Linked DNA regions of Homo sapiens: all the other regions are linked to region 3. A link means that fine-mapping ties the variant in region 3 to the plasma level of a protein whose gene starts in the linked region. Region 3 holds a variant in brackets. A gene starts in each other region. All regions are shown on their reverse strands.

Evidence for each region. A credible set is the group of variants that fine-mapping cannot tell apart. PIP is the posterior inclusion probability: the model's chance that the variant is causal. The UK Biobank Pharma Proteomics Project read protein levels with antibody pairs (Olink). The fine-mapping took linkage between variants from a reference panel, not from the people measured, so its PIPs are less certain.
Region 1: GM2A starts here. The variant in region 3 is the best candidate, but not a certain one, in a credible set for the plasma level of the GM2A protein (UK Biobank, PIP 0.90).
Region 2: CD59 starts here. The variant in region 3 is the best candidate, but not a certain one, in a credible set for the plasma level of the CD59 protein (UK Biobank, PIP 0.82).
Region 4: SMOC2 starts here. The variant in region 3 is the best candidate, but not a certain one, in a credible set for the plasma level of the SMOC2 protein (UK Biobank, PIP 0.90).
Region 5: WFDC2 starts here. The variant in region 3 is the best candidate, but not a certain one, in a credible set for the plasma level of the WFDC2 protein (UK Biobank, PIP 0.81).
Region 6: BSG starts here. The variant in region 3 is the best candidate, but not a certain one, in a credible set for the plasma level of the BSG protein (UK Biobank, PIP 0.53).

Annotation. Positions count from the first base shown.
Region 1 is chr5:151,251,038-151,255,892 of GRCh38, reverse strand. It overlaps GM2A (ganglioside GM2 activator), which reads right to left and starts at 2,708. Exons shown (of 4, transcript NM_000405.5): 1 at 2,596-2,708. The coding sequence starts at 2,676. LOC124901115 (a long non-coding RNA gene) reads left to right here and starts at 4,708. Exons shown (of 3, transcript XR_007059003.1): 1 at 4,708-4,855. RefSeq lists a silencer at 2,748-3,097.
Region 2 is chr11:33,733,949-33,738,803 of GRCh38, reverse strand. CD59 (CD59 molecule (CD59 blood group)) reads left to right here and starts at 2,381. Exons shown (of 4, transcript NM_000611.6): 1 at 2,381-2,422. RefSeq lists a silencer at 2,263-2,732.
Region 3 is chr16:20,378,333-20,383,187 of GRCh38, reverse strand. All of the region lies in intron 3 of PDILT (protein disulfide isomerase like, testis expressed), which reads left to right. Among named protein-coding and RNA genes, the nearest start is that of PDILT, 24 kb to the left of the region's middle. The variant C/T (reference allele first, on the strand shown) is at 2,178.
Region 4 is chr6:168,438,626-168,443,480 of GRCh38, reverse strand. It overlaps SMOC2 (SPARC related modular calcium binding 2), which reads right to left and starts at 2,297. Exons shown (of 13, transcript NM_001166412.2): 1 at 2,027-2,297. The coding sequence starts at 2,110.
Region 5 is chr20:45,466,729-45,471,583 of GRCh38, reverse strand. It overlaps WFDC2 (WAP four-disulfide core domain 2), which reads right to left and starts at 1,831. Exons shown (of 4, transcript NM_006103.4): 1 at 1,724-1,831; 2 at 1,052-1,195. The coding sequence starts at 1,802. RefSeq lists silencers at 907-956, 977-1,166.
Region 6 is chr19:569,811-574,665 of GRCh38, reverse strand. It overlaps BSG (basigin (Ok blood group)), which reads right to left and starts at 2,070. Exons shown (of 9, transcript NM_001728.4): 1 at 1,965-2,070. The coding sequence starts at 2,031. BSG-AS1 (BSG antisense RNA 1) reads left to right here and starts at 2,418. Exons shown (of 3, transcript NR_184018.1): 1 at 2,418-2,557; 2 at 3,070-3,226. RefSeq lists silencers at 1,730-1,909, 2,080-2,299 and enhancers at 3,120-3,169, 3,250-3,822.

The DNA of each region.
Region 1 (4,855 bases), not on the chromosome of region 3:
ATACCCACAGCATATACAACAAGTTTGTAGGGTGAGCTAGCAGCCTCTAGCCAGACTCCACCTCATAGCGGCCAGCCCTGGAGCCAAGAGAAGCATTCTCAGCCAACATTCAGGAACAAGGTATAAATTCTCCAGGCAAATGAAGTCAAAAGGTCCACGTTCCTTCATTCAACAAGCAAAACAGACTTTCTGCCTCGGGGGCAGAGTGAGGCCAAGCCCACAGATTTATATGGCTTTATTTGTTTCTGATTTTAGAAATTTTCCATCAATGAATGCATTTCCCTTCACCGACAACTCCCCGAGATGCACGTTGGCACCATCACACCCATCTTACAGATGAGGAGAACAAGACTCAGGAAATCCATGGATTGAGACAGGGGAATGATCAGAAGCCAAGCCTCCCTGCTTTCAGTATCACCCGCTTTCCCCTACACAGCACTGTTCCTCACTCTCAAACACTTCCAAGATGGTAGAAGGGAGGGGATCAGGGTTGGACCTATCCCTTTGCTACCAGAAATGTGTGATGTCTTGACCACAGCTAGCAGCCAAGAGGCAATGGAATCGGGTTTTTGTTTTTGGGGTTTTTTTGTGAGATAGGGTCTCACTCTGTCACCCAGGCTGGAATGCAGTGGTGCAATCTCAGCTGTAGCCATGACCTCCCAGGTTCAGGCGTAGCTGGGCCTCTCACCTTAGCCTCTCAAGTAGCTGGGAATACTGGCGCACACCACCACGCCCAGCTAATTTTTGTATTTTTGCAGAGATGGGGCTTCACCATGTTGCCCAGGCTGGTCTTGAACTCCTGAGCTCAAGCAATCTGTCCACCTCAGCCTCCCAAAGTCCTGGGATTACAGGTGTGCACCACCGCACCTGGTCTTGGGTTTTTTTTAAATTGACAAACCATAGTTGTATACATTTATGGGGTACACTGCAATGTGAAATGTATTCTCTTAGTTGTTTTGAAATGCACACAGTTCCTGACTTACAATGGTTTGACATACCATTTTTCAACTTTACAATCGTGCCTAAGTGATAAATATTCAGTAGAAACTGTACTTTTAGTATCCATACTGTTTTTCACTTTCAGTACAGTCTTCAGTAAATCACATGAGACATTCAACACTTTATTATGAAATAGGCTTTGTGTTAGATGATATTGCCCAACTGTAGGCTAATGTAAATGTTCTGGGCATGTTTAAGGTAGGCTAGGCATGTTTAAGGTAGGCTAGGCTATGATTCTCAGGTTAGCTGTATTAAATGCATTTTCAACTTATGATGGGTTTATCAGAACATAACCTCATGGAAAGTTAAGGAGCTTCTGTATATAATACATTACTGACGATAGTCACCCTGGTGTGCAATAAATCTCAAAGCCTATTCCTTAGCAGAACTTGGTGGCCCACACCTGCAGTCCCAGCTACTCAGGAGACTGAGGTGGGAGGACTGCTTGAGCCCAGGAGTTTAAGGCTGCAGTGAGCTACAATCGCCCCACTGCACTCCAGCCTGGGTGACAGAGTGAGACCCCACCTCTACTCTCAACTTCTGTAAGTTCAACTTGGTTAGAATCCGCATATAAATGAGATAATAAAACAGAACTACCATATGAGCCATTATCCCACTTCTGGGTATATATCCAAAGGAACTGAAATCAACATTTCGAAGGGCTATCTGCACTCCCATATTCATTGCAGCATTACTCACAATAGCTAAGATATGGAAATAACCTAAGTGTCCATCAACAGACACTTGATGGATAAAGAAATTATCCATCAACAGACACTTGATGAAGAAATTATCCATCAAATTGAATGCATAAAGAAAATGTGGCATATATACACAACAGAATACTATTCAGCCTTTAAAAGGGGGAACATCTTGTCATTTGCAACAACATAGATTGAATCTGAAAGACATTGGGCTAGCTGCAATAAGCCAGGAACGAGGCTTTTTCAGGTGAAGGGATTACAGAACTTCCCTTTCCCAGGGATCTGCAGCACGGTGTGAATGAGAAGTGAAGGAAGAAGCGGTGTCAATGAGAAGTGAAGGAGGAAGCTTGGAGGGTACGGGGACTGTTGTCTCAGTGGCTCATAACCAAGGGCAGCGGGGTCACAGGCCTGGGTATTTGTCACCAGATGGGCAAATCTGGATCCTCTGGCCTGGAAAAGCTCTCAAACCCTCCCAACTCTCAGGAAGACCTCAGGGCATTCGAGCAGGGGAAGAGATGAGGCAGCAGGCCTTATCATGGGGGACATAAGGAGTGGGGGTCAGGAGTAAGGTGCAGGGTTAACAGGACTGAATCTCTGGGGGCAATGCCTTAGTTTTAAGGCTGTCTGCATTTTCACTCCGGCGCTTGGAGGGAGGGCAGGAGAGTGCAGACGTGAGATTAATCTCTCCAAAAAGGGCCTGGAGCAGAACAAGTCTTTAGAGGCCACCCTCATTGTACAGACCAGAATCCCATAATTAGTTACTTTGGAAGGCTCTAGTGCAGAGAACCAATTCTAGAGAACGGAGTGGCCACCCCCATATCTCAGCCAGACCCGCACACCCGTAGCTGGGCCAGGAGGCTGCAAACAGACTCTTAAAAGAGGGTGCACTCACCTTTTTCAGGTGGGCTTGCGCAGGGGCCGCGAGAAGCAAGCCCAGGGCGATCAGGAGGGGAGCCTGCATCAGGGACTGCATCGGGAAGGGTGGGTCAGGGCGGAGTTAACTGCAAGGTCTGTGGCGGCAGAGGTGCCTTTAAATGCCTTCCAGTATTGGTTACGCAAAGAAGCTGAGTCCAGTCACTGGCAGGTTCGCCCTGCCCCGTCCCGGCCAGAGACTTCCCGGCCGAGAATTGGACCGATTCCTCCCGGCTCCGCCCCCTCGCTCTTTTCATTGGAGCCTGTCTCTCTAGCGTAGGTGTCAAGGCCTTCCCTCTCTGGGGCGTAGGCGGAGTTGGAAGAGAAAGGGGCGGAACTGAGCGCGGCGGGGCTGAAGGCGGCTGGAACGGAAGGGAGCTTAGCACGAGGTTGGGGCGGGATCACGAGGGCGGGGCGGAGCTGCGCGCGCGGGAGGGGCGGGGGCGTGGCGCGAGGAGGGGCCGAGCGGAGTCGGGGGCGGGGCGGAGCAGAGCTCCTGGGAAGGGCGGGGCCGGGCAGGGGATGGGGCGGAGCTGTGGTTTGTGAACTCGTGCCGGGGCCGTCACCTTTGGAAGGACCTTTGGGAAACCGCGGATTCAGTGTTTTCATCCCCAAGTCCTTCCGGACAAAAATGTCAGACTCTCTGCCATGTTACGCTTCCCCATATGTGTGTCTTTTTTTTTTTTTTTTTTGCTTTGAGACGGACTCTCGCTCTGTCGCCCGAGCTGGAGTGCAGTGGCGCGATCTCGGCTCACTGCAACCTCTGCCTCCCAGGTTCAAGCGATTCTTCCGCCTCAGCCTCTCGACTAGCTGGGACTACAGGCACGCGCCACACGCCCAGCTAATTTTTGTGTTTTTAGTAGAAACGGGGTTTCACCGTGTTGTCCAGGACGGTCTTGATCTCTTGACTTCACGAATCCGTATCTTTTTAATAATTATAACCGTTATAAAAACTAACATTTAGTAACTGCTTGAAAGCATGCTAAGGACGCACAAGGGAATGCTTTTTTTTTTTCTTCCCCAATTTTAGCACTGAGGAAACTGATACACAGTGAGGTTAGCTCTGCCAAGGTCGCACAGCTAGGAAGGAATAGAGCAAGACTTCTTTTTAGACACCCCATCAGCCAAGATTTTGTCAGGTTAATATACTAGTTGGAGATTTGCTTTTAGAAAAAACAGGGATGTTGTTACCAATACCGCCAATTTACCACAGGATTGTAAACTACACAAGGGGTGGCATCATGATGCAGGCACTCATTTATACCCAGTGCCTGATGCATAATAGACAATCTGTTGAGTACATGAATGCATGTGTAGAATTTAAAACTCACCTGATCATCTTTTTTAAAGTAAACTTTTTATTTTGGTTTACAGAAAAGTTGCAAAAATACTACAAAGTTCTGTTCGTTTCCTCTATTGTTGATAAGACACCCGTGGCCTGGCCGGGGGTTCAGACTGCAGACCCAGAGCTTGTGCTTGTGCATAACTGGGGGGCACTGCCAGCGACAAGGAGGTGGCAAAAGAATAAAAAATTAAAAAATTTTTTTTAAATCTGAGGGCATGACATTGGTACACTATTATTAACTAAGCTCCATACTTTACATAATGATCCTCCCATTCTGATCAACTCTTCCCTTTCACCTAGCCCAACTGAGGTAGGAGAATAGAGTCTGCAGGCAGGGAACCTAAGGCCATTTCACGCTGACTTCCTAGAACTAAATCGAAAGGAAAACCCTAACTTTCCACACCTAAGTAACAAGAGGACCAGAGGCTACTCTCTTTACAACCCCCCACCTTTTCTGTGCAGCAGATGGGAAATTGAAAGTACATTTCGATTTCTATGCTACATTTCAGTTTATATGTTAAAATTGCATAGAAGTGCAACTTTGTAACTTCACTTCAGCCTGATTGGTTGCTTTCCACAACCAATCAGATGTTTGCACAGGAGCATGACCTTTGTAACTTCACTTCGGCCTCTGATTAACCAGTCAGACTGATTGCGGGCCACCACTTCATTTACATGAGGTGAGCACCAAGTGGCCAATGGGAAACCTCTAGGGGGTATTTGGACCCAAGAAGATTCTGTATCTGGGCCCTTGAGCTGCTGCTTGGCCCGCTCCCACACTGTTGAGTGTACTTTCATTTTTAATAAACCCTTGCTTTTGTTCTTTCATTGCTCCATTTTTCCCTTGCTTTTCTGTGTGTTTTCTCCAATTCTTTGTTCAAAAACGCCAAGAACC
Region 2 (4,855 bases), not on the chromosome of region 3:
AGCCGTGTGGAGGGCAAGCAGAGAAGGGGCAGGGGATGCAGGAATTGACATGGGCAACATGGGGACCTGGTATTAAGGAATTGTAATGGCTCAAGCAACGCAAACTACAGATCTGAATTAGCACAGTAGCAATGTGAAAAAGGAATGAAATTGAGATATTGAAATGGTAAAATAGGCAGGAATGGCTGAGTAGATGTGAGGGAGTGGAAGAGGTCAACGTTGATTCCTAGGTTTCTGTCTTCATTTATGAAAAAAATTCAGGAAAAGCAGTCACTCTTTAAAGATGAATTCAGATTTGTGCACATTAAGTTCAAGATGTCTGTGGAACATATAAGTGGAGATGTCCAGCAGTCAGCTGGATATGAATATGAAGATAGGGGGAGTGGTCAGGGATGGAGACAGACTTTTGAATCATCTGCAAACATACATCCCAAGGTAAAAGAGTAGATACACTATAGTCTCCCAGGGAGCACACACAGCCATGGTTCTCAGTCTAATCCTGGGACACCAAATTATTAGTGGGTAAAGGAAAAGAATCTCAAGACCGAATGGTCAAGAAACCATTCTAGGGAACCAAACTAGGAGAGAGTGGCATCTCAGAAGCCAAGCGTGTCAAGGAAGGAATAGCTAACAGGATGTGTGTAAGGTATGTACACAAAAGAGCTTTGGAATCCATCTTGGGAAATATACAGTATTAGCTGTTTTAAGGAGACATGCTTTAAATATCAAAGCAAGTCATCCTGATTTAAAAAACTCCCACTTGTATAGAGGAATACCAGGATTTGAGCACCACCAAATGGAACTCATTCCCTGACATCCCAAAGCCATCAGAATAACAGTAGAAGCGTCAAGACAGTTACTATATGATTTTCCCTGCAAGACATTCAGTAATCTATGATTCCCCCTGCTTAAATTTTATCTCATGCCTTCTTCCCTGACCAGTTCAACACAAGCAGCCCTGAGATGTAATATCTTCTCACCCTGACCCTCAAAGTGTGTCTCATGCTTTCTAACAGAGGCCATCCTCTTGGAGGAAGACTTGTACTTTTGGCCTGTAGCCCCACCCTCCCTCCTATGGCGTTCTTACAGTCAGTTCTGCAGTGAGTGGGACACTTTCCAAATATAATAGCAAATGGAAACTTCTAATTACATCTGCACATAAAACTAATGTTCCAAATGGTGGTTGCGGTTCTGGTGAGTGCTTATAATTTTTTGTTACCTCAGCATCCATTTTTGAATATGTTTAACTTTTAATAACAGAAGCAAGTCTCAGTCACCATTGACAGTTTCCAGTACTATACCCCACGCAAATGGCTCTAGCTGGTGGCCAGAGATAAACATGCAGTGATGTGATAACAGGGCACTACTGCAGCTTCAAACTCTGGTTCAAGTTCCTCCCACCTCTGCCTTTTCACCTGCTTGCTTTTAAATCCACCAGTTAGAGCTCTCCAGAGGAAACCTAACTGGATAAAGTTGCTGGCCCAAAGGTCCGTTCCTCCCTTCCCTCTCCCTGTTCTCCCTGATCTCCGTGTGTGTGTGTGTGTGTGTGTGTGTGTGTGTGTGTGTGTCCTCTAGGCAAGCTGTGTACCACCCAGGGTCCGTAAGTACTAAAAACTCTTAAACTTTCACACCGCTGTGTTATTGAAACCATGCCTACAATCCAGTCCCTGAGGCGAGGCCACCCTGAAGGGACAGACTCATGCAGGCGGATCCCCTGGTCTTGCTCTTCTGTCCCTGCCTCTGGTGGCTGCTGGGGAACAGTAGCTACCAGCTAAGTTGATAGAGACACTCGAAGAGGTTCATTCAAAACACTGGTCCCCGAGCAGCCCAGTAAGCTTTTAAACGCATAACATTTTGTTTGGGTCTCAAACAAGTCACAAGGCACGGATACGGATGCGGCTGTGGCTGATGGCTATTTGGATGCTGCCCAAGCCTCGCAGTAGGAAGCAGCTTCAGACTGCAGCAGGGCCGCATAGCCCGATAGCCAGGCCCTGGGGCACCCAGGGCACCAGCAAGACGCACAGAAACGTTTTGAAAAACATTTTAATATACTTAAAAAAAAAGTAAAAGGGAAAATCAGAAGTCTTTGGAAGTTTCCTACTGTTTTTATGTCCCATAGCAAATCCGAGGAGGACGCCCCAAACTTTCAGTTCCCTGGGGTTTTGAAGGTGCTCATTGGGTCCTGGCCACCCGGCCTTCTCAGAACCTGGGCCAGGAGGCTGAGCTCCGCGCGGGGGTGGAGGGAGAGGAGGAGGTTCCTGCCGAGGTGCGGCTGCGCGGTGCGGGAGCCGGGAGCCTGGGAGGGCAAGGGCATCCTGAGGGGCGGGGCCGGGGGGCGGAGCCTTGCGGGCTGGAGCGAAAGAATGCGGGGGCTGAGCGCAGAAGCGGCTCGAGGCTGGAAGAGGATCTTGGGCGCCGCCAGGTAAGAAGGCCCGAAGGCCTGCTGGGGTTTGGGTGAGCCGAGCCGAGGTGGCGGCGGCAGTCTGGGCCCGGGCGGAGGGTCTGTGGGGGCTACCCCCGTCCTCGCTTTCCACTCGACCCCTGCCGGGCGAGCCTCCCGAGGCCTGGCCCTTCCAACCCGTCACCGCGGCCCGGTGTCCTAGCCGAACGCTGGCTTCATTTTATCTACGAGGAAGGAGAAACGGGGAGCGCGCCCTCTCCCAGAAGCAGCCCCGTTACCCCCGTCGCGCCCCCCATTCCCTCGGGGGCAGCCTCGCACCCGGGCCCCTGCCATCGCTTTCGTCTCAAGGGAAGCTCTAGCGGTCCAGAGAAACTGCGCCGGGGGAAAGGCCAGCCCTCCGTGGTCACGGCAGTTCCTCTCTCCCCTCGCGGTCTAAATGTGTAATTTTGAAAAGCAGGTGTCGGGCGAAACGGACTTTTTTTTTTTTTTGAGATGGAGTTTCGCTGTTGCCCAGGCTGGAGTGCAGTGGCGCGATCTGGGTTCACCGCAACCTCCGTGTACCGGGTTCAAGCGATTCTCCTGCCACAGCCTCCTGAGTAGCTGGGATTACAGGCATGCGCCACCATGCCTGGCTAAATTTTGTATTTTTAGTAGAAACGGGGTTTTCCCATGTTGGTCAGGCTGATCTTGAATTCCTGACCTCGTGATCCGCCCGCCTCCGCCTCCCAAAGTGTTGGGATTACAGGTGTGAGCCACCGCGCCCGGCCGAAACGGACGTTTTAAGTACAACGTGATGTTTTGTTTTCTTGGGTCGGCTCGGGCCGCACCCTTCTTAGAGTCTGACTGCTGACTTTTCAAAAAACAACATTAACCCGGGAGGCTGAGGTAGCGGTGAGCCGAGATCGCGCCATTGCCCTACTGCCTGGGCAATAAGAGCGAGACTCCGCCTCAAAAACGAACAAAACCCACAAAGAACAAACAAAAAAAACCAACATTAAGCAGTGTGCCTTTTATGGCCGTTTAGTGATACCCAGGCTCTTCACTGGTCATTTCTGGAAGTATTTAACAGCACTTGATGGGTAAAACAATAGGCTTCACTTCACAGGGTGGTTGAGATGATTGACGGAAAGCGCTCAGCACAAACGCGGCGGCTGCTAATTATTTCAGGTACCCTGCGATCCCTGAGCAGTTGTTCAAGTTCTCCACTCCTGGCGGTTTACTCCCAGTTCCCTGAAGAAGGCACAGAGCCCCGAATGTTGAGGGAGATGGCAACGTTTGCCAAAATGTGGCTATTTACGTGGCAGTTTATGAAGGAGAGGCAGAAAGGGAGGCTGCCTCCCCTACAAGCCAAACAGTCCTAAAACTTGTGGCCTCTGTATTTTCACAGTGGAAACTAGAAACTGTTTGCTGAACTTAGCTGTAAGAAAAACATCCCATTAGCTGAGTGGCTTAGGAGATAAAAGCCTAAATAAAATGGATCTTAGGGTGAGAGAGTGGGGTGCCTAATGGCATTCATCTTTGACAGCTGCTGGTAGAAGCTCTTGAAAAGTAGAGCATGGAAAATTCTGGGCCACCTCTTTAAGAACCTCAGCCAAACCGCCACAGACATTGCCAAGCCCAGAAGTGCTTGAGGCTTTCTAAAGGCAAAGACTTCTTTTTACTTATGTCCTATATCTTAGGAAACATATTCACTAAACCTTGGTTTTGCATGTGTACTTAACACGGGAGGGGCCGTGAGTGCGGAGATAGGACTCTTTGGAGAGTTAGGGATTGGCATTCCGGAACAAACTGCAGGAAAGGCCCTTGTAGGGGAAGCTGCAGATTTGTTTGGTCCAAAGAGTTCTGGCCTAATAAGTGGGAGCTGACCAATGAGAACACTTGGACACAGGGAGGGGAACAACACACACTGGCGCCTGTCGGCAGGTGGGGTGGGTGGGGATAGAGCATTAGGAAAAACAGCTAATGCATGCTGGGCTTAATACCTAGGTGATGGGTTGATAGGTGCAGCAAACCACCATGGTACACGTTTACCTATGAAACAAATCTGCACATCCTGCACATGTACCCTAGAATTTATATGTATATCACACAAAGAGTTTTGGAGTGGTTATTCCTGGCATGAGAACCTTGGCTGGATTGGAAAGCCTTTTCCGTTATGATGGTTGTTTTCTCTTTGTCTCTTCCTGCTGATGTAATTTGTTCCGTGAACTGAGTGATGGATGTTTGTCTGGGCGCTTCAACAGGCATGGCTAGAGCAGGTATTGTGTATGTCTCCAAGGTGACACGCAGACCTGGGGTTCAAAAGCTCTAGTTCTCTGACATTGCTGACACTAGGTATCTTGTGAGTTGCCAGCCCCTGGCGAATAGAAACAAGATCCATCCAGGGTGGTTTTGCGACTAACATGTTGCCTTGGGACAGGTAATTTCATCCCACTGGGCCTCCACTAATTTCCT
Region 3 (4,855 bases):
AATATGGCAACTTCCAGACTGTGGGTGAAACTAGCAGAGAAGGTCCCCAAGGCATTTGACTTCTGAGCCCCCTTCATCAGGGAAACCAGTGCCTGGGACCTCGTCTGCCATACAGGAAGCTTCATCATCACCCCATCTAGGAAGTCTCCCCTGACTGCTCAGGCCAGGGTGCCTGCTCCACCTCTGTGGCCTCACAGCATCTGTGTTTTCCCCATCAAGGCCCTCGCCTCAAAGAATTACATCTGCTACTTATTGCTTGTTCTCTACAGAGAGCATCACAAGGGCAGTGGCTGATCTCACTTGCACTCCTGGGTCCTCTAAAGAGACTGCCAGAATTGACAGCACTCCCCTCTGCATCCAAATCCTTACCACAGGCTTAAGAAACAATCACTGCCGCTCGTCGAATCTCAGTTTTTCCATCTGTTAAATGGGGATGGTGAAAAGATCTACCCCTCTACACTGTTGGGAAGATAAAATGATGTTTGCAAGGCACACGGCCTGACACATACCTGTAGCATATACTGTGTTCCAGGCATTGTTCTAGACCCTTCTCCTATGTCATAACACCCCAATATAAGAGGTGCTTTTACAGATGGAGAAACTGAGGCACAGAAAGGTAGAATAACTTCCTCAAAGCTGCCCAGTGAGTAGTGGTGGAGTCAGCAAATGTTTTCTGCAAAGGCCCAGATTATTAATATTCCAGATCCTACAGGCCAGGCAGTCTCTGTTGTAACTACTCAGATCTGCTGATGCAATGTGAAGGCAGCCACGTGTTAACAAATGGGAATGACTGTGTTCCAATAAAGTTTTATTTATACAGTCAAACAGCAGGCCAGATTTGGACTACAGGCTATAGTATGTTGAAATCCGCTTTACATTGCGCTGTACTCTAAGCAAGAGGCAGATGTGTTCATTATTATTATCAGACTATTAGTTTTCTCATTCTAGTCCAATGCCTGGAACAATTAAGTTCTTAACAAATAGTTTTTGAGCCAGGTGCAGTGGCTCAACCTGTAATCCCAACACTCTGGGAGGCTGATATGGGAAGATCACTTGTGCCCAGAAGTTTGAGACCAGCCTGGTCAACATAACAAGACCCTGTCTCTACAAAAACCTTAAAACTTAGCCAGGTGTGGTGGCAGATACCTGTATTCTCAGCTACTTAGGAGGCTGAGGTGGGAGAATTGCTTGAACCCAGGAATTTGTGACTGCAGTGAGCCATGATTGCACCACTGCACTTCAGCCTGGGTGACAGAGTGAGATCCTGTCTCTAAATTTTAAAATAATAATAATAAAAGTTTTAGATTTTGAATACAATGGAATTGGAAGCACCCACTGCAGGTGGGCATAGGGTAAAGTACCCACCCATATTTCTGCTGGGCTTGCTTCCTCAGTATTACTTCTAACCAGAGAAAGGGCAAAGGGAATGCCAGGATGAAGCTGGGACAGGGATTGAGGATGCCTGGATTTTAGGATGAGCAGTAACCATGGGAACTTCAACGAGCCTTTTACAACCAGGCTTCCAATTTCTCTTTTTTTTTTTTTTTTTTTTTGAGATGGAGTCTCACTGTTTTGCCAGGCTGGAGTGCAGTGGTGCGATCTCGGCTCACTGCAACCTCCGCCTCCCGGGTTCAAGTGATTGTCTTGCATTAGCCTCCCGAGTAGCTGGGACTACAGGCATGTGCCACCACTCCCAGCTAATTTTTAGTATTTTTAGTAGAGATGGGGTTTCACCATGTTGGCCAGGATGGTCTCAATCTCTTGATTTCATGATCCACCTGTCTCGGCCTCCCAAAGTGCTGGGATTACAGGTGTGAGCCACCGCACCCGGCCCAATTTCTCATTTTCTAAACAGGATGAGTAAGGCCAGTTCTGCCTACTTGCCAGGGCTCCTCTGAGCTGAGAGGAGACAGTGCTTTACGCATCTTCTGCAATGTGACTTTGATGAAAACTCCTCTTAGGACACTGGTGGGATTTAGTCCTTGCAGGGTCAAAGCCCCAGTCCCATTCTCATCTAATCTCCAAGGATTGATGGCAGGAGACTTGGCCATGGCCATTGCTCTGGAAGGAGGGAGACTCAGGTTGCCTCTAGGCCTCTATTAATGATGCAGCCACAGTCTGTGCCTGGAAATATGCAGCCCAGTGCTGGTCCTAGTCAATCATTGACATTGCATTCA[C/T]ACCTCAGTTGTCACCGTGTCCTCTGGCACAGAGCCAAGCACCAAAGGAGGTCCCTGACAAGGGCAGTGCCTGATCTGCAGGCACAAAGGAATCAACAATTTGCAGAGTTCATAACTACCTCGGTCCCACAGGGGCCAGAGGGGCAAATGGAGCTCACACGTCCCCAAGAAGATGGCCCAAGATCAAGTTTCCTCAAGCCAGCTTCCCTGATGATTCATTCAGCCCATTCATTCATTCTAGAAAGATTTCTTAAGCATCTACTATGTGCCAGGCATTACAGGAGCTTACTGGGAGCTCACACTGAACAAGCTAGTGAAAAATCATTCTAATAATTTCAAGAAGGGATAGACTCAATGAAGAAAATAGGGTAGCTCGGCTGGGCACGGTGGCTCACGCCTGTAATCCCAGCACTTTGGGAGGCCAAGGCGAGTGGATCACGAAGTCAGGAGTTCAAGACCAGCTTGGCCAAGATGGTGAAACCCCATCTCTACTAAAAATACAAAAAATTAGCTGGGTGTGGTGGCGGGCACCTGTAATCTCAGCTACTCCGGAGGCTGAGACAGAGAATTGCTTGAACCCAGGAGGCAGAGGTTGCAGTGAACTGAGATCACACCACCGCACTCCAGCCTGGGCAACAGAGTGAGACTCCATCTCAAAAAAAAGAAAAAAAGAAAAAGAAAATAAAAGAAAAGAAAATAGAACAGGTCATAAGACAGAGAGTGATTGGCTAAAAGAAAAGAAGAACCAACTGAGAATTGAACAGGCAGAAGAAGGCACTGCCCTTGAAGAGCTGAGGAAAGGGCAGCCCATCAGGAGGGACAAGCCAAGGCTGAAGCCAGTGTTCTGGAAGATAACTGTAACGTTGGAGTGTGGAAAGGGCAGAGGGTGGCACAAAGTGACATCAGAGCAATGGTTCTGATGACCTGAAATTTAAATTCATTTGGCAGGTTTTGTTTTTGGATATTTTCAGATTTTGTAAATCAATTCCTTTTGGATCACTTACAATATACTTTTGCCAGACAAAAGCATATAAGAGAAACCATTTGTTTCCAAGTGTGACTTATTTTTACCTAAAGATGGCTGGAAACACTGTACAGAAACTCAGTGTTGAGGCTGATATCTCAGAGGAGGGAATTACAGCAGATGTGGGGTACCAAGGTCTGAGGGTGGCATGATGCCTCCTCCTTCTCTCTTCTCTTGAAGCCACCATATCAGCTTCACATGAATTTCCATAGGTTTGACTCATTGTGGCTTTTAACATGACCTTAACTATATCTACTAAAGTTGAACATGGCATCTGCTATGACCAGAAATTCTCCTGCTGGCTATACACCCAACAGAAGTGCATACAGTGTGCCCCAGAGACATGCACAAGAATTCATTCAGAATAGCCCCAGCCGGGCATGGTGACTCATGCCTGGAATCCCAGCATTTTGGGAGGCTAAGGTGGGAGAATTGCTTGAGCCCAGGAGTTCGAGACTGGCCTGGGCAACATAGCAAAACCTCGTCTCTACTAAAAATTGCTTAAAAATTAGCCAGGTGTGGGCTGGGCGTGGTGGCTCATGCCTGTAATCCCAGCACTTTGGGAGGCTGAGGCGGGAGGATCACCTGGAGTTCGAGACCAGCCTGGCCAACATGGTGAAACCCTGTCTCTACTGATACTAAAAAATTAGTGGGGTGTGGTGGCACGTGCCTGTAGTCCCAGCTATTCGGGAGGCTGAGCCAGGAGAATCACTGGAACCCGGGAGGCAGAGGTACGGTGAGCCAAGATTGAGCCCTTACACTCCAGCCTGGGCAACAGAGCAAGACTCTGTCTCAAAAAATAAAAATTAGCCAGGTGTGGTGGTACATGCCTGTAGTCCCAGCTACTCAGGGGGCTGAGGTGGGAGGATGGCTTGAGCCTGGGAGATCGAGGCTGCAGTAAGCCACGACTACACCACTGCACTCTAGCCTGGGTGACAGAAGGATAAACTGTCTCAAAAAAAAAAAATGCCCTAAAATGAGAGCAACTAAATGCCCATTAGCAGAGAATGGACAAATAAGTTGTGGGATATTCACAGCAGTGGAAATGAATCTTCAAGTACATGAAAAACTGTGGCTGAATCTCACAAACATAATGAAACCAGAGCCAAGAACATTTATATGAAGTTCAGGAACAGGCAGACTAATGTAATCTGTTACAAGTTAAGGTGGCAATGGAATACTACAAAGCCATAAAAAGGAATGAGATCGTGTCCTTTGCGGGGACATGGATGAAGCTGGAAGTCATCATTCTCAGCAAACTAACACAGGAACAGAAAACCAAACACACTCACTCATAAGTGGGAGTTGAACAATGAGAACACATGGACACAGGGAGGGGAACATCACACATTGGGGCCTGTCTGGGAGTGGAGGGCGAGGGAAGGGAGAGCATTAGGACAAATACCTAATGCACGCGGGGCTTAAAGCCTAGGTGATGGGTTGATAGGTACAGCAAAGCACCGTGGCACATGTATACCTATGTAACAGACCTGCATGTTCTACACATGTATCCCAGAACTTAAGGTAAAATAAAAAGAAGAAGAAGGAGAAGAAGAGGAAGAGGAAGCAGAAGAAGAACAAGAAGGAGAAGAAGGAGAAGAAGAAGTAGTTAGAGTGGTGGTTACTTTTGGATTGAGGGGAGTAGAGGCTGGGA
Region 4 (4,855 bases), not on the chromosome of region 3:
CAAACTGTTCTTGGGGAATGCAGCCAACAGGGCAAAGCCCACGTGGGGTATCAGCTCCTGCACAGAGACCCCACATGCAGCGGGTCTCACCGCAACCCAAGACATCCTTGGGGCAACCTCAAGGGGGCAAAAGGTGAGAGGGTTCAAGTAAATAGTTAGATGAGACAGGGGAGAGAAGACAAGAAAACCTGCCGAGTCTTAAACTGTTCTAATTACTAACTACCTTGATTCTGCTCTTCCAGGGGGGACCAACAGGCCCAACCCCACCCCCCACACACACAGGGCAGCAGGCAGATGGCAGTCTCTACTTTTTGCGCTTTCAGAAAATCTGAAAATCCGTGGCAACTGTAGGTACCTGCTGCTACAGTCCTGGAAGAAAATGCTATGATCTCCTTTGGAGAATTGGCCTTAGTTTCTCTGTCTCCTCTAGTGTGCTTTAAGAGTATGTGGGGGGTCTTTTTGTGAGTGTATACGTGAGTATATTTATGTCTAGATGCATGTACAGATGTGCATATACATGAATGCCTCCAGTGAGTATCCTCTGAGGGCCCCCTCTGGGGAGATAAAGGATCTTCAGGGAAAGCCTGAGTGTGTGAAAACCTCCTTGGAGCCCCAGTTAGCAGTTTCTAATCTACAAGTCATTTGTGAGACACAAGGCAGGGACCCCGGGCTGCTGCAGAAGAATTTGAGGTATGAGCAATGAACTCACAAACCATCCTTCACACTGCTAAAACGCAAAAGAAAGAAGACGAAGAAAAAGAAAAAGAAAAAGAAAAGATGCCCACATGACTGTTTTAAATTTGCTGAAAGGCAGAACCGACCACAGCTTATTTCAACCATCTTTATTTTCAATACAATAAACACCTTTAGGACAAGTCCCCGGCCACTTAAAAAAGACGGCTGTCCACCAGAGGCGTTCTCACTACCTTCGTGTTTTCTCAAACACTTGTTCAAAAACACATTTAAGTGGAATGTTTTCGTTTCTGGCGATTGCATTAATGATGGGTTTGCAAACCCTGCAAGCCCAGGAGGACGGCTGGAGCTGGGGGCTGCAGACACCCGGCCTTGGCCCAGCGGCCGCCGCGGGTTGGCTTGGCCGGCGGGGGCTTGGCTCAGCCCCCTCTACATAGCTCCTCGTTTGACACCGCGTGCGTTGGCCGGGCCAAGGCTGTCGCATAGAAGTTACAGCTCAGAAAGAAAAACACACAGCGGTCAACCGCGGTGACCCTCGCGCTCAGGAGCGCAGCATCCCTGCCACGAGGAAGAACCCAGAGGCCCCGCAGAGCGGGGAGCCGCCGCCTGCCTCCAGTTCTGTCCTGAGAAGGGAAGAAAGCGCTTCTCTAATAACACTCAGGCCCGTGAAGAATCATCTGTAACCTCATCTGCTTCTTCCTCGGCTCACTTACGAGGGTCTCTGGGAGAGTCAGACCCACGAGTGGGGCCCACGACTGGCAGCCCCTTCAGCCGGCGAGAGGCCCGGGATCCGCGCGGCGCACGAGCCCAAAGCGGTCGGGAGAACACGCTCCAGGCCGGGTCCCCGTGGGCGAGGTGGGCGCCCAGTCCCGGCGGGTCTGTCTTGGCCTTGGGACAGTCCGCGGGGCGGCGCCGGCGCTCCCAGACCTGGTTCCCCACAGGCTCAGGCCCAGCAGTGAGTGCGGGACACCCGAGCGCACCCGCAGCTCCCACTTGTCCGGGGTCTGCAGGACCCCAGGATCCTCTCACAGCCGGGTCAGAGCCCCCGAGGCAGGTGGGGTCCCAGCCGGGTGGAACCCGAGGAGCCCGTCGCAGCCGCAGCAGGACCCCGGCGGGCAGGGTCCCCAGAAGCCCATCCCAGCCGGGTCCCAGGCGCGCACGCTGCGTCCTACCTGCTCCAGCCTCGCCGGCAGGCGAAGGCTCCACGGCCCCCGGGGCCACCTGCTCCCCGTGCCCAGGCGCCTGGGCCTGGAGCGGGGCGCGGGGACCCGAACCCGGCCGGCTGCAAGAGGCGGCACCACTTGAGCTCCAGGTCCCGCGGGCCCGGGCTTACCGTGAGCGCCGAGAACTTCTGAGCGGGCACCGGCGGGAGCAGCCCAGCGAGCAGCGGCAGCCAGCAGAGCTGGGGGAGCAGCATGGTGGCGGAGGTGGCGGGAGCGGGAGATCGGCCGCGTCCTGCGCCCTGGCACTGCAGCCGGGAGAGCCCAGTGGGCGAGCGCGGCTGGGCGGGCGCGTGGAGGGGCGGCTCCGCGATGCTCTCCCCACCGCTCCCGGCGGCCCGGCTGGAGCAGCTCCCCTGCAGGCACCCAGAGGTCCTCCGCGTTCTTTGCGTCCGCCCTCGCTCCTGTCAAATACCCCGGAGCTTCCCGGATCCTCCCCTCCCGCCCGCCTCTCTCCCTCCCCCTCTCCTCCCCCAGCCCCACCTCCCAGCGCCCGCTGCCGCGCCCGCTCCGCTCCGGTGCCCGCTGCGGCCCAGAGGCCTCCCTGGCGCGGGTCTGCGGAGCGAGAGGTGGAGCGGGGGCCACCAGGGCTGCGCAGTGGCCTGTCCGGGCTGTCTCTGTGCCTCCTTCCCCGCGCGCACTCTCACACACACACGTGCACACTTACACACACGCACACCCAGGCACACGCACGCACTCATACCCACGCGCGCGCACCCTCGGGGGGCTTCCAAGCACAACCACGGGACGCACCGCGCCCTCCTCACGCCCCAGGGTCCAGGCCCGGTCCGCGCAGGATCAGCCCAGCGGGACTTTTCATCCACAAAGGTTAACGCCAAGCCTTGGCCGGTCCCCAGACTCCGGGGTTCTCCTTGACCTCTGCCCTCTAAGGCCCCCTGGTCCAGCCCAGAACATTGCCTCTCAGAGGTGCTGAAGGATCAGCGGCGCTCCAGCAAAGGCAGCTGGGAACACATGTCCAGGAAAGGCTGCGCCGGGGGCAGCCCGCCTTTGGCATCTTTACACGGGGTTATCCACTGCAGGGATGGGGGAATTTAGGTCCTAAAGATCCGGGGTCTGACCTGGGCTGTAGCCTTGATCCTCTCAAGTCGGGGGAGCATGTGGTTGGGCATCATTCACAGACACATGTGGCTGTTTTTAAACAGCTCTGTCAAAGCATTTCAGGTGTTTGTGCGGGGAGCACAGGGCTTGTGGAGGTTGTAAACTCACCCACGAAGACTACGTTGGAAACCAGGAAATTTTTGCACACCCAGACTCTGGATAATATCCACTGCAGACAACATTGCTGACATAGTTTAGCCTTGGCTTATAACTTTACAGGAAAAAGCCCTAATTCTGTCTCACACAGAAAGCCAGAAGAGTGAAGATTTGTTCAAGAACAATGAATCAATTGACTTGTCAGGGGCATTGGGAAAAGCACAAAACACAGAAAATCCAAATCTGAGGTTTCATCCGATGTCTAGCCCACTGCTTTGGCTATGAACTTTGGGGGAGGGGGCTGTATCAGCAAGTTCTGGGACTGGCTGCTGAGGCAAAGGCAATGCTATTGCAACCTTTCCCACACAATTTTATCAGGAAAGTGATGTCCGTCGGGCCACGGAAAGACGGGAAAGAAATGCACCTTTTCCTGAAGGAGGGCTACTCTCAGAATTCTCCTTAAAATTCCAAAGCCCAGGGAATCTATTAAGCACTTAAACACATTCCTCCTGGTTTAAGGACTTAGAAGGAAATTATAATAAAACTCTTGAGGGACTGCTCCTGGGTCCAGAAAAACAGGTGAGCAGAGCAGCTGCAAATGATTAAGTAAATAGGAATCACTGTTAGGGAACTGCAGTGAAAATTAAAGTAAAAAGAAAATAAACACTACATACCACTAATTCTAAGATTATCCAAAGAATAAAATTTACACTCGAAGCTGACATACTTCCTTTAAGAAGTATTTGCTACTAAAGAACCTGTTTTTCACTTTCCACTTTGTTGAGAGTACTGCTCGTCAGAACTCAAAAGTTTGAAAGCATGTTCATTTATCCACCATCGTCCGCTGCAAGAATGGCAGACAAGAAGCAGACTTAATTATTCCCATTCTACAGATGAGGAACAAAAGTCAAAGGGGCCAAATGTCTTAGCCAGATCTCCTAAGCAACAAAATCATAAACAGAATGCAGATGTTAAAACCTGCAATACTGGCAAATCCATGTCACTTCCTCTGGCAATATGGAGAACAGAAGAAAATCCTTGGCCCTCCGTGCCTTGTATTCAAGAATCCCAACACGTCTTTCATGTAGCAACTCCAGAATCCTCTGGGAACTCTAGGAAGATAAATGAAATGCATTTGTCCAAAACTCTGACAGATGAGGCAGGTTTGGAGCCTTTGAAACCCCTTTCAAATCTGGAGGAGCTCATGTGTCCTGAATGCCAAATTTTAGTTTCTCAAAATTCTAGAAATGGAGTTTGGAGAGATAATCAGGTTCCATTTTTATGGAGAAAAACAATACATTTATTTAAAACACTGGGAAAGAGTTATGTCTGTCTTTTATTTGTAAGTCTCCAAGAAAGTTATTACTGGCAGGAATGCCAGAGAGCTGTCATGTTAGAAAGGATAGAAAAGTAATTCACTCAGTTCAAAGTTAAGACAGGAAGTGATCAGCTCTATACTTTCCAGAGAGTTCCTCTAGGATGCAGGAAGAAGTTCCCCTCTCTTGGAAATGTAGGTTTTTTTGTTTTTTTTTTTAATTAAAAAGTGATGCAGGGCCCATTCTAAAATGTGGCTTATGCATTCAGAATTTAAATGCCTGTCACTGATGAAAGTTACAATAAAGAACAGCAAGAGAAACTAATTACCAAAGACTCCAGCTGTTTTCACATTTCTAAACTAACTTTCCCTCTTAGGCCATTAGCAAAATGCTTTATCATGAGTATTGGCT
Region 5 (4,855 bases), not on the chromosome of region 3:
CCCTTGGTGGGCTGCCAGTCCCCCTCCACTTACCACCTCCCTGCTGATCGGTGTCTTGGGTCACCGTATTACAAACCTTCCCAGCCTGTGCTGGCATCTTCAAGGAAATAACAGAGAGGAAAAGTCACAGGGGCTGTATTCTGGATAAAGAACATCATTACAGTACCTTGGTTCTCTCCAGGTCCTATCCCTGCCTCTAATCCTCAGCATTTTCCTCTGGAGAACGGAAAGCTGAGATTCCATGCTGTTTAAGCCACCCCCTGTTCTGATAGCCTGGTGGAGACTGCAGCTCCAGCAAGCACCTTTGAGAGAGTCCCCAGCTCGCGCTCACTCAATCCTTAGAGTGGAAGAGATTGACTGAAAGACGACGAAGGGCGATACAGTGTCCAGGGAGGATTCCTCACTTTCTTCGAATCACTCAGCCAGTTGGCCTGAAAGGCAAAAGCTGAACCCTCACTATGACTCCAGCAGCCATGGGATGGCGGTGTGACCTTGGGCAAGAACATTTTTTTCTCACCGATGCTCCCTTACACATCTTTAAGATGAGCGGGGCATTTTCCTAAATCTGTAAAGTTCCTTTCCGCCTGGACAGAGGAATTGGGGAAAATCTTGCCAGGCCAGGCTCTCCCAGTCTTTCCCCAGGGCTGGGGGAGGCCCCCAGGGAGGGACTCCAAGAGGAGAGGTGAGCGCCCCAGGCTCCGGGCTTTCCCGCAGGGCAGGCTTCGGCCGGTTCGAGAAGGAAACTGCGGCCCCGGGTCCCCAGGCCGCGGGGAACAATGTCCCGGCTGTGCGTGCCCGGAAGCCCGTCATGCACCAGAGACTCGAATCCCAGCTAGGGGTGGGGACCCCCCCTTGGCTGCGTTTCAACGACGCCTTTGTCTACCCCTGGGCCGTGCGAGGGAGAGGACTGACGGATCTGGTTTCAACCGCCTTGACTTTCCCGGGGGTCCCCGGGTCCGGGGGCGCCCCTGTTCCCGGAACCCGGGCCCTCCCACCTCCTCCCAGCCCAGCGCGGCCCCGCCCCGTTCCCGCTCGGCCGCCGTGGGGTTACCATTGGGCAGAGAGCAGAAGGTGGCACAGCCCGCGCTGCAGCACTTGAGGTTGTCGGCGCATTCGCTGTCCGAGACGCACTCTTGCGTGCAGTTCTGGTCAGCCTGGAGCTCGGGGCACACGCCAGTCTTCTCTGCTCCTGTGCCTGGGAGGGGAGGCCCGGGACAGTCGAGGGTGGGGCGTAGCGCCAGCCCCAGAGGATGCCCACCTCCTGCTCCAAACCTTAACCCCAAGGAATTCTCAGTCTCTGGCCCTAGGAGTCCCCTTACAGCCCCCAGAGACTCCTTCTTCCAGACCAGGAGTCCCTGACCCCTGGGAGTACGAGAGCTCCCTAACCCTTGGCGTCGGGGCCCTCAGATCTCAGCCCTAGGGGACGCCGCACAGCTGAGCGTCTCGGAGCTTCCGAGGTCGAGGCAGAGCAGCCCCCACCCCCAGCCCACTGCAGCCACGGAGTGTCCGCGTTCAGCACAGAATCCTCCCAAATTGCAGCCATCAGTGGTCTCTCCACCTCCAGCACATTGGACCCCACACCCTAGGCTCCAAGGGTCCCCGCCACTTCCGCCCCCGGAATTCCCACTTCCCCAGCCTCCAGAGGCTACGCCTCCGCCTGGCTCCATCCTGGCGCTCGTGGCTCGGCCCCTCTAGGCGCCGGGCCTCTCCCCGCCCCACTCACCTGAGACTAGGGTGAAGCCGAACAGCAGCAGGCTGAGGAGGAGGGCGGCGGCTAGCGGGCCTAGGCGACAAGCAGGCATGGTGCTATGCCCGGGCGGGGTGCAGGTGTGAGCCGATGCTCAGGTGCGGGGATTTAACCGCGCGCGCGGGAGGGGGCGTGGGGTAGGGGTGGAGCCGAGCGGGGAAGGGGAGGGTGGAGGGCTTTGCGGGCACCGCGGGCGGGCTGCCACATGAGGTCATTTCACAATCCCCCAGGATCAGGTATCACTCTTGGCCCCGGTGGGAACCAGGAACTTAAGCAGCTTCCAGGACGGGACCAGCTACGGCCGGACCCTTGTCCACGCCTCCCTCCTGACCTCCCTCCTGGGGCCTGAGGGCCAAGGCTCAGGGCTCCTGGGTTTCTATTCCAAGACTCCGAGGTTTCTCCAGAGTGTCCCCAGTGGGCGGTTGAGGAGGATAAGGCAGGGCCCGCAGGGAGGCAGTAGAGCATGCGGGTTAAAGGGTTCGATTTGGGGTCAGCCAGATGAGAGGGCAGATCCCTCTTGATGGAGGGCTAGGGTAGTGATACAGAGCACATAGTAGGGGCTACAGAAATAGCACTTATTATTAATAAACAAACCCTCCTCATCAGAAACAGGCCCAGGAAGGTGAAGCACCTAGCAGTCTCAAGCCGTTTGGGTGTGTGTTTCTGTCTCCCTCTCTTTGTCCTACCGGCCCCTGATCAGGGCTGACTGTGCCAGGCTCTGTGCTCCTTGTCTCAAGGAATTGTCGCCGGTCCTCTGACCGGGGAGTTACTGTTATCAGCTGTATATGACAAAGGAACTGAGTGTTTAGGGATTTAGGACCGCACCTCCACCACAAGGTCCCCTGCAAAGCTGTACAAATAAGGTTTTGAACCCAGGTCTCTCCCTCCAGGCCCTTGTTTTTTCCATTCCGTCGTAAATATTCACTGGGTGCCTACTGTGTGACATATGCAGGGCAAGACGCTTGGTGAAGAGAAAGTCGTCAAAAGGGGCCCTCCAGCACTGGTCTTGAAGGGGTGACAGGGTCTGGGGTCTGACTCCCACCTCCACCACTTCCCACCTGAGGGCCCTGGAATGAATCCTTTCCTGGATCTGAGCTGCCACATCATCAGTGAAAATGACACCTATATGGGACTTCAGTGAGAACACAAATGCAACGTTCCTGCCACGGAACAACCATGTACTCACTGGGAGCATTGAGAGTAGATCCACACTGATTGACACAGGGACTCCAGGCCTGACCCATGATAGGTACTGGATACATGGCCATGAGTGCTCCACAGATAAGTGTCTCCTGTGACGAAGGAGACCAATAAGTATAAATGAAGCTTTAGAATCCAGGGGGTTAAGTGCCAAAACAGAGTTACCCAGGGAGTTAGACAAGAAGTGCTTCCTGCTCCAATGATCTGAGGTTCTAGAAGCCCCAGGAGGTCTTTGCTGCTGGAGGCTAGAGGGGCCCTGGGGCAGTGAACACTGGGATGATAGTGACAGGTGAGTAGGGTTTGGTGATGTGAGTACATCTGGCCACTGTCCCCAAAATGGATGCTGAGAACACCTCCCCCAGCTTCTCATGCTCAACTTGGGGACTGGGGACGTTATTGGGAGGGGCCAGGGCTATTTACTCTGAGCTCAGTCAACAATGAGGGCAGGAGCCAGGTGGGAACACAGCCCATAACAGGCTAGTGAAACCCAGTCTAGGGCACAAAGAGAACACTGGGGTGAGCAGCCAGTTTTTAGCCCGTGGACCCAGCTGGCTACTGTACATTCAGCCCCAGGCACTGCTGCCAACAGCTTTCTTCCGGGCCCTATTCAGCTCCCTGGGCCAGGAAACTGCCCAGCCTTGCTCCTCCCAGGCCCTTATGAGCACCCTATTGATTGGCTCTCTCTTACAGGAATACAGACTGAGGGAGAGTGGCAGGGCCAGGCAGAAGGATGGGGAAGGAATTTTCATCAGTCAATGGCATCAGATGTTTAGCTTTTGTGGTGCCAAGTTCCGTGCTAGGTATAGTTATAGATATTCTCTTTACATCATTTAAAAGGGCAGAGGCTTTAGAACCAAATGCATCCATGCCCAATCAGGGACAATGCATCCATGGCCACTTTCTGGCTATGTGACTTAGAGAAACACTTCATGTTTTGGGCCTGCATCTTCTTCCTGCATAAACTGTGTATCATCCTAACAGTCTTGGATGATTATTATAAGGGTTTTATAAGATTATTATAAGGGTTAAAGGAAAAAGCATAAATCAGAGGTTGCAAATCTGGCTAGAGCACATACATTATTAACTACACAGTATGTTTTAAATTTTTAAATTAGTTGCCAAGATTTAAAAGTAGCGAATTTCATATAAAAATAAACCTCTAGCTTCTCTTGGAAAAAGTAAAAGATCTGGCAACACAGTCCTGCAATCTTAGATATAACAACCATCAGCTAGAGCAGCAGGTCTCAAAATTGAGCATGCGTCAGAATCATTTTTTTTGTTGTTTTTGTTTTTTTGAGACTGAGTTTTGCTCTGTCCCCCAGGCTTCCCTCCCCTCCCCTCCCCTCCCATCTCCTCCCCTTCCCTTCCCTTCCCCTGCCTCCTGGGTTCAAGCGATTCTCCTGCCTCAGTCTCCCAAGTAGCTGCGATTACAGGCGCCACTACACCCGGCTAATTTTTGTATTTTTAGTAGGGACGGGGTTTCACCATGTTGGCCAGGTTGGTCTCGAACTCCTGACCTCAGGTGATCTGCCCGCCTTGGCCTCTCAAAGTGCTGGGATTACAGGTGTGAGCCACAGTGCCCAGCCTAAGCATGCATCAGAATCACTTGGAAGGCTTATTAAAATACAGATTGCAGGATCCCCATCCCCAGAGTTTTGATTAGTAGGTCTGGAACCTGAGAATTTGCATTTCTAACAGGTTTCCAGGTGATGCCAATGCTGCAGGGCTAGGGACCATACTTTGAAAACCAGAACCTAAGTACAGCTACTCTTTTTCTATGAGGGAAGCATTCCCTCCAGTTTCCCATAATCCCCACCACCACCATCCTCCCTCTCTGCAACTAGTTCCATTCACAGTGCTCACCTGACCCCAGGAGGACATTTAAATTTGTGACCTCTGGAGTGGGCA
Region 6 (4,855 bases), not on the chromosome of region 3:
CAGGACAGAGGCTCGAAGCCCTTGCTCTTGACCCTTCAGGAGGCCAGACCCTCCAGCTCTGCACCTTGTTCCCAACACATCGGTCACAATAAATTTTTTTTTTGTTTTTTTTTGAGACGGGGTCTCGCTCTGTCGCCCAGGCTGGAGTGCAATGGCGCGATCTCGGCTCACTGCAAGCTCCGCCTCCCTGGTTCACACCATTCTCCTGCCTCAGACTCCCTAGCAGCTGGGACTACAGGCGCCCGCCACCACGCCAGGCTAATTTTTTGTATTTTTAGTAGAGACGGGGTTTCACCGTGTTAGCCACGATGGTCTTGATCTCTTGACCTCGTGATCCGCCCGCCTCGGCCTCCCAAAGTGCTGGGATTACAGGCGTGAGCCACCATGCCCGACCTCTTTTTTTTTTTTTTTTAAAGACAGAGTCTCCCTGTTACCCAGGCTGGAGTGCAGTGGCATGATATCAGCTCACTGCAACCTTCACCTCCCAGGTTCAAGCGATTCTCTTGCCTCAGCTTCCTGAGTGGCTGGGATTACAGGCGTGCGCCAACACGCCCAGCTAATTTTTGTATTTTTAGTAGAGATGGGGTTTCACCATGTTGGCCAGGCTGGTCTTGAACTCCTGACCTCAGGTGATCCACCCGCCTCAGCCTCCCAAAGTGCTGGGATTACAGGTGTGAGCCACCACGCCCGGCCTCACTATAAATCTTTAACCCAGAACCAAATGGGGGTCTCAACAAAGGAAGAAATTTTCTATGAAGCAAGAAAGGATGTCATGCTTTTCTCCCGGAAAAACACACCTCAATCCATTTCCCAAATGCGCTCTCCAAACCACGTTTGCCCACCCTCAACACACGGCCCTCCTAAGACAGCACTGGAAACCGAATGCGGGTCAGAGTCGGCTAAAAACGACTTTCTCACTATTTCCTGCGCTGAATCGGGTGGCCAGGGCCCCCTCACTGTGACCTTGGAACCTCGACTTCCCACAGGGCTGTTTCCTCGCCTGTAAAGGAGGAGGGGCGTTCAGAGACCACCTCATTCTGGGTGCTGAATCCAGGCAGAATCAGAGGGAGATTCCGCCTTCCCTTCCACGCAGGGCCCCTCGAGGGAGCCTGCGAGGTCTTAAGAGTCTGGGAGAACACCCGGGGGCAGGTGCACGCCCTAGGCAAGACGCCAGGGCTAAATCCCGTGAAGAACGGTAATCCCTTCCCGATCCGGAGGGCTGACCCACTCAGAGCCTCCATGTGCTCTTGGAGGACAAAAGCCCCTTTTCCAGAAGGGAGCGCCAAGATGATCGCTCCAGGCCGCACGGGCCCTTGCGGGGGCCCCAGAGAGTCTCAGGGGAGGGTCTCTGACCCTAACACTCGCAGGCAGGGTGGACCCGTCTCCAGATTCCACGCCCAGGCCGCTTTCCCCAGGTCCTGCGGAGTCCAGCCCCAGCAGGACGGGTTGGGCAGGCACCAACCAGCCCCTGACCCCTGGCTCCAGGCCAAAGGGGACGCTCACCCAGGCTTTGGGTCTCCCTTCTCCTGGCCGATGGGACCGGCGGGCGGGCCACCTCCAACCGCCTTCGCAGACGCCCTCACCCAGGAAGCAGGTCACCCCCAACCCCAGGTGACCGAAAAGCAAGACGCCCACCTCCCCTGACCAAGACCGGCCTGGCCAGGACCCCCTGGCTCCCGCCTCCAAGCAGGGAGCTTCACGCCCACACACAGAGGCCGGGCTCGAGGCCGGAGCGCCCGGGGGAGCCCGGCAGGCCGCGCCGGGAGGAACCTCTAGTCCCCCCTCAAACCCTGGGACTTCACCCCCAAGCTCCATGCTGGCGCGGGAAGCCCCCGGGGCCGGCCTTTCGCACCCCAGGCCGCCCCGCGCCGAGGCCCCAGGCTCCCGTCGGCTTCGGGTCGGCACCGCGGCCTCCATTCCCGGCCCCTGCAGGACCGCACCCCCGCCCCCTACCCGCTCCTCACCAGCCCCGGAGGCTCCGTGGGTGCCCAGCAGCGCGAATCCCAGCAGCACGAACAGCGCAGCCGCCATGATTCCTATTCCTCGCCGGTCCTACAACCTCCAACCGCTGCCGCCGCCGCCCGCGGCCGCTATAAAAAGCGGCGGAGGCGCGGACCGGGCGCGCGCACGCACGGCGTCATCTCGGGGGCGGGGCGAGCGCCGGGGACGCCGGTCGCCCCGCCTGCGCACGCGCGCACACGCTCGCATGTACGCGCCGGCTCCGGCAGGCTCACGCTACGGAATCCGGGCGGCGGCGCACGTGACCCGGCGTTGCTAGGAAACGGGAGTGGGGCCTGCGGGGACGCGGCTGGAGCCTGCGCATTTCTTCCTTCCTGCTTTCAAAGTTGCAATGAGCGCAGAGCGGTGCGCCCGAGGGGGTTGAAGCGTTGAAAGTGTGTTACCCAGATTTTATCTGAGTTAAACACGGGCCGGCCGCTGTGGCTCACGTCTGTACTCCCAGAGCCTTGGGAGGTCGAGGCGGGAAGATCGCTTGAGCCCGGGAGCTCGAGACCAGACGCGGCAACATGGCGAGACGCACATCTCTGCCTTTAAAAATGTACATATATATATATATATATGAACGTATTAATAAATTAGGTGGGAGGAAGTGACCTCCTCCGCCCAAATAAAAATACTTAAAGGGCACTTGAATCTGGATCTCAGAAAATGAATAATTTCTTAGTATAAACGTCCTGTGCACCATTTGGTTGGGACAAGTAAGTTCCTCTTCAGAAACTCAACTTCCAGGTCTAAAGTTGTCAATCAACCTTACCCCCTTCTTCTTTCCTCGCAGGTGGCGCGTTTACCCTATTTTAAAAAAGTTTTAAGTTTTAGCCAACCGGGATCAGCTTAGATTGTGGGCGTCCAACCCCAGCCAACAGGGAAAGGACAGAGGAACAGAAGCTCCCTTCCTTTGTCCCGTGTGCTCTGGAGATTGCATCCCACGCAGGCAGCCCCCTTCCGTACAAGTAAAGTGGTCTCGCTGAGAAATTTTCTAAGTGCTGGTTTCTCTTTGCGGGACCGACTCGCCGCCCCCAAATATCCCATTTGGATCCCATTCTGTTTCAGGAGAGGCTGGCGGTTACCTTTCTTGGGGAGACGCGTCCGACTGCTTCATTGTGGGGGCCTCAGGAGCGGAGGATCGGGTCCCGCCCGAGGTGACGCGTAAACCCAGACTCTCAGCAACGCGGGTAGGAAGGACCCTTGAAGTTCCGCGGCGACCACGGTGAGAAAAGTCGCTATTGGGGCGACACAGGTGGGGGCGTCTCTTGGAGGTTGAAAGTGTGTGTTGGAAGTTAAACTCGGAGTCGCAATGCAAGAGGACCGCAGACTAAGCCGAACGCGAAGGGCTAACTGGAAAGGGGCAGGAATGTGGCTACACTGGCGGGAAGAGCCCGTGGCGACGGGAGGGGGATGTGCAGAGTGGGTGGCAGGTGCCATCTCTGCAGATCAGGACCGGCGGGAAACTTGTTTACTGAGACTCAGACGGGGAGGCCCAGAGGGTGAGGAAGTCAGGTTGGCCTTGGAAGTAGGAAACGAAGAACGAGGGCGCTGAACGAGCCAAACCTTTGAAGAGGAACTTGTGAATGAATGAGACGCGCCATATCTTTTGTGTGTGTGTGTGTTGGAGTCTCGCTGTGTCACCCAGGCTGGAGTGCAGCGGCGCGATCTCGACTCTCTGCAACCTCCGCCTCCCGGGTTCAAGCGATTCTCCTGCCTCAGCCTCCTGAGTAGCTGGGATTACAGGCGCGCACCACCACGCCCGGCTAATTTTTGTATTTTTAGCAGAGACGCCCCATATCTAAAGAAGGGTGGGATCCTCTAGACCACCTTCCCCCACTCACCCCTCCGCCCCTCCCAACCCACCCCCTCCGCCCCTCCCAACCCACCCCCTCCGCCCCTCCCAACCCACCCCCTCCGCCCCTCCCAACCCACCCCCTCCGCCCCTCCCAACCCACCCCTCCGCCCCCCCCACCCACCCACCCCACCCCTCCGCCCCTCCCCAACCCGCCCCTCCGCCCCTCCCACCCACCCCTCGCCCCTCCGCCCCTCCCCCACCCGCTCCTCCGCCCCTCCATCCCTCCCCTATAGAACCACCTGGACCTTGCCACCCACATCCCCGCTGGACAGCCACTAGAACATGCCCCTTCCTCAGGAAAGCTCCAACGGGAAACAGAACAATGCCAAAGGGATATTCGAAACTTTCGGCCGGGCGCGGTGGCTCACGCCTGTAATTCCAGCACTTTGGGAGGCAGAGGCGGGTGGATCACGAGGCCAGGAGTTCAGGACTGGCAGCCTGGCCACGATGATGAAACCTCGCCTCTACTAAAAATACGAAAATTAGCCGGACGTGGTGGCGGGCGCCTGTAATTCCAGCTACTCAGCTACTCGGGAGGCTGAGGCAGGGAATGTCTTGAACCCGGGAGGTGGAGCTTGCAGTGAGCCGAGATCGCGCCACCGCACTCCAGCCTCGGCAACAAGAGCGAGACTCCGTCTCAAAAAACAAACAAACAAACAAAAACCCACAGAACTTTCCTTTTGCCTCCTGCTCAAAAAGACCTGCCTCAGCCCTTTTCCCCTTTAGGGAAGGACCACCGGGAGGAAGGGATATTGACTTCGTAAATGCCCCCTTTAACCAGTTCAGAGGTTAGAAATCTAAAAGAACTCAAACCACTGTTAGATGACCCTTTTGGATTCGCGGATCAAATTGACCAATTTCTGGGGCCACAGCTGTACGCTTGGGCTGAATTAATGTCTACCCTCAGTACTCTCGTCTCAGGAGAGAGAGAACCATGATTCACAGGCCGCTGTGTTAGTCTGGGAGCGTGAACACCCCCCGGTCAGAACGTCCTTT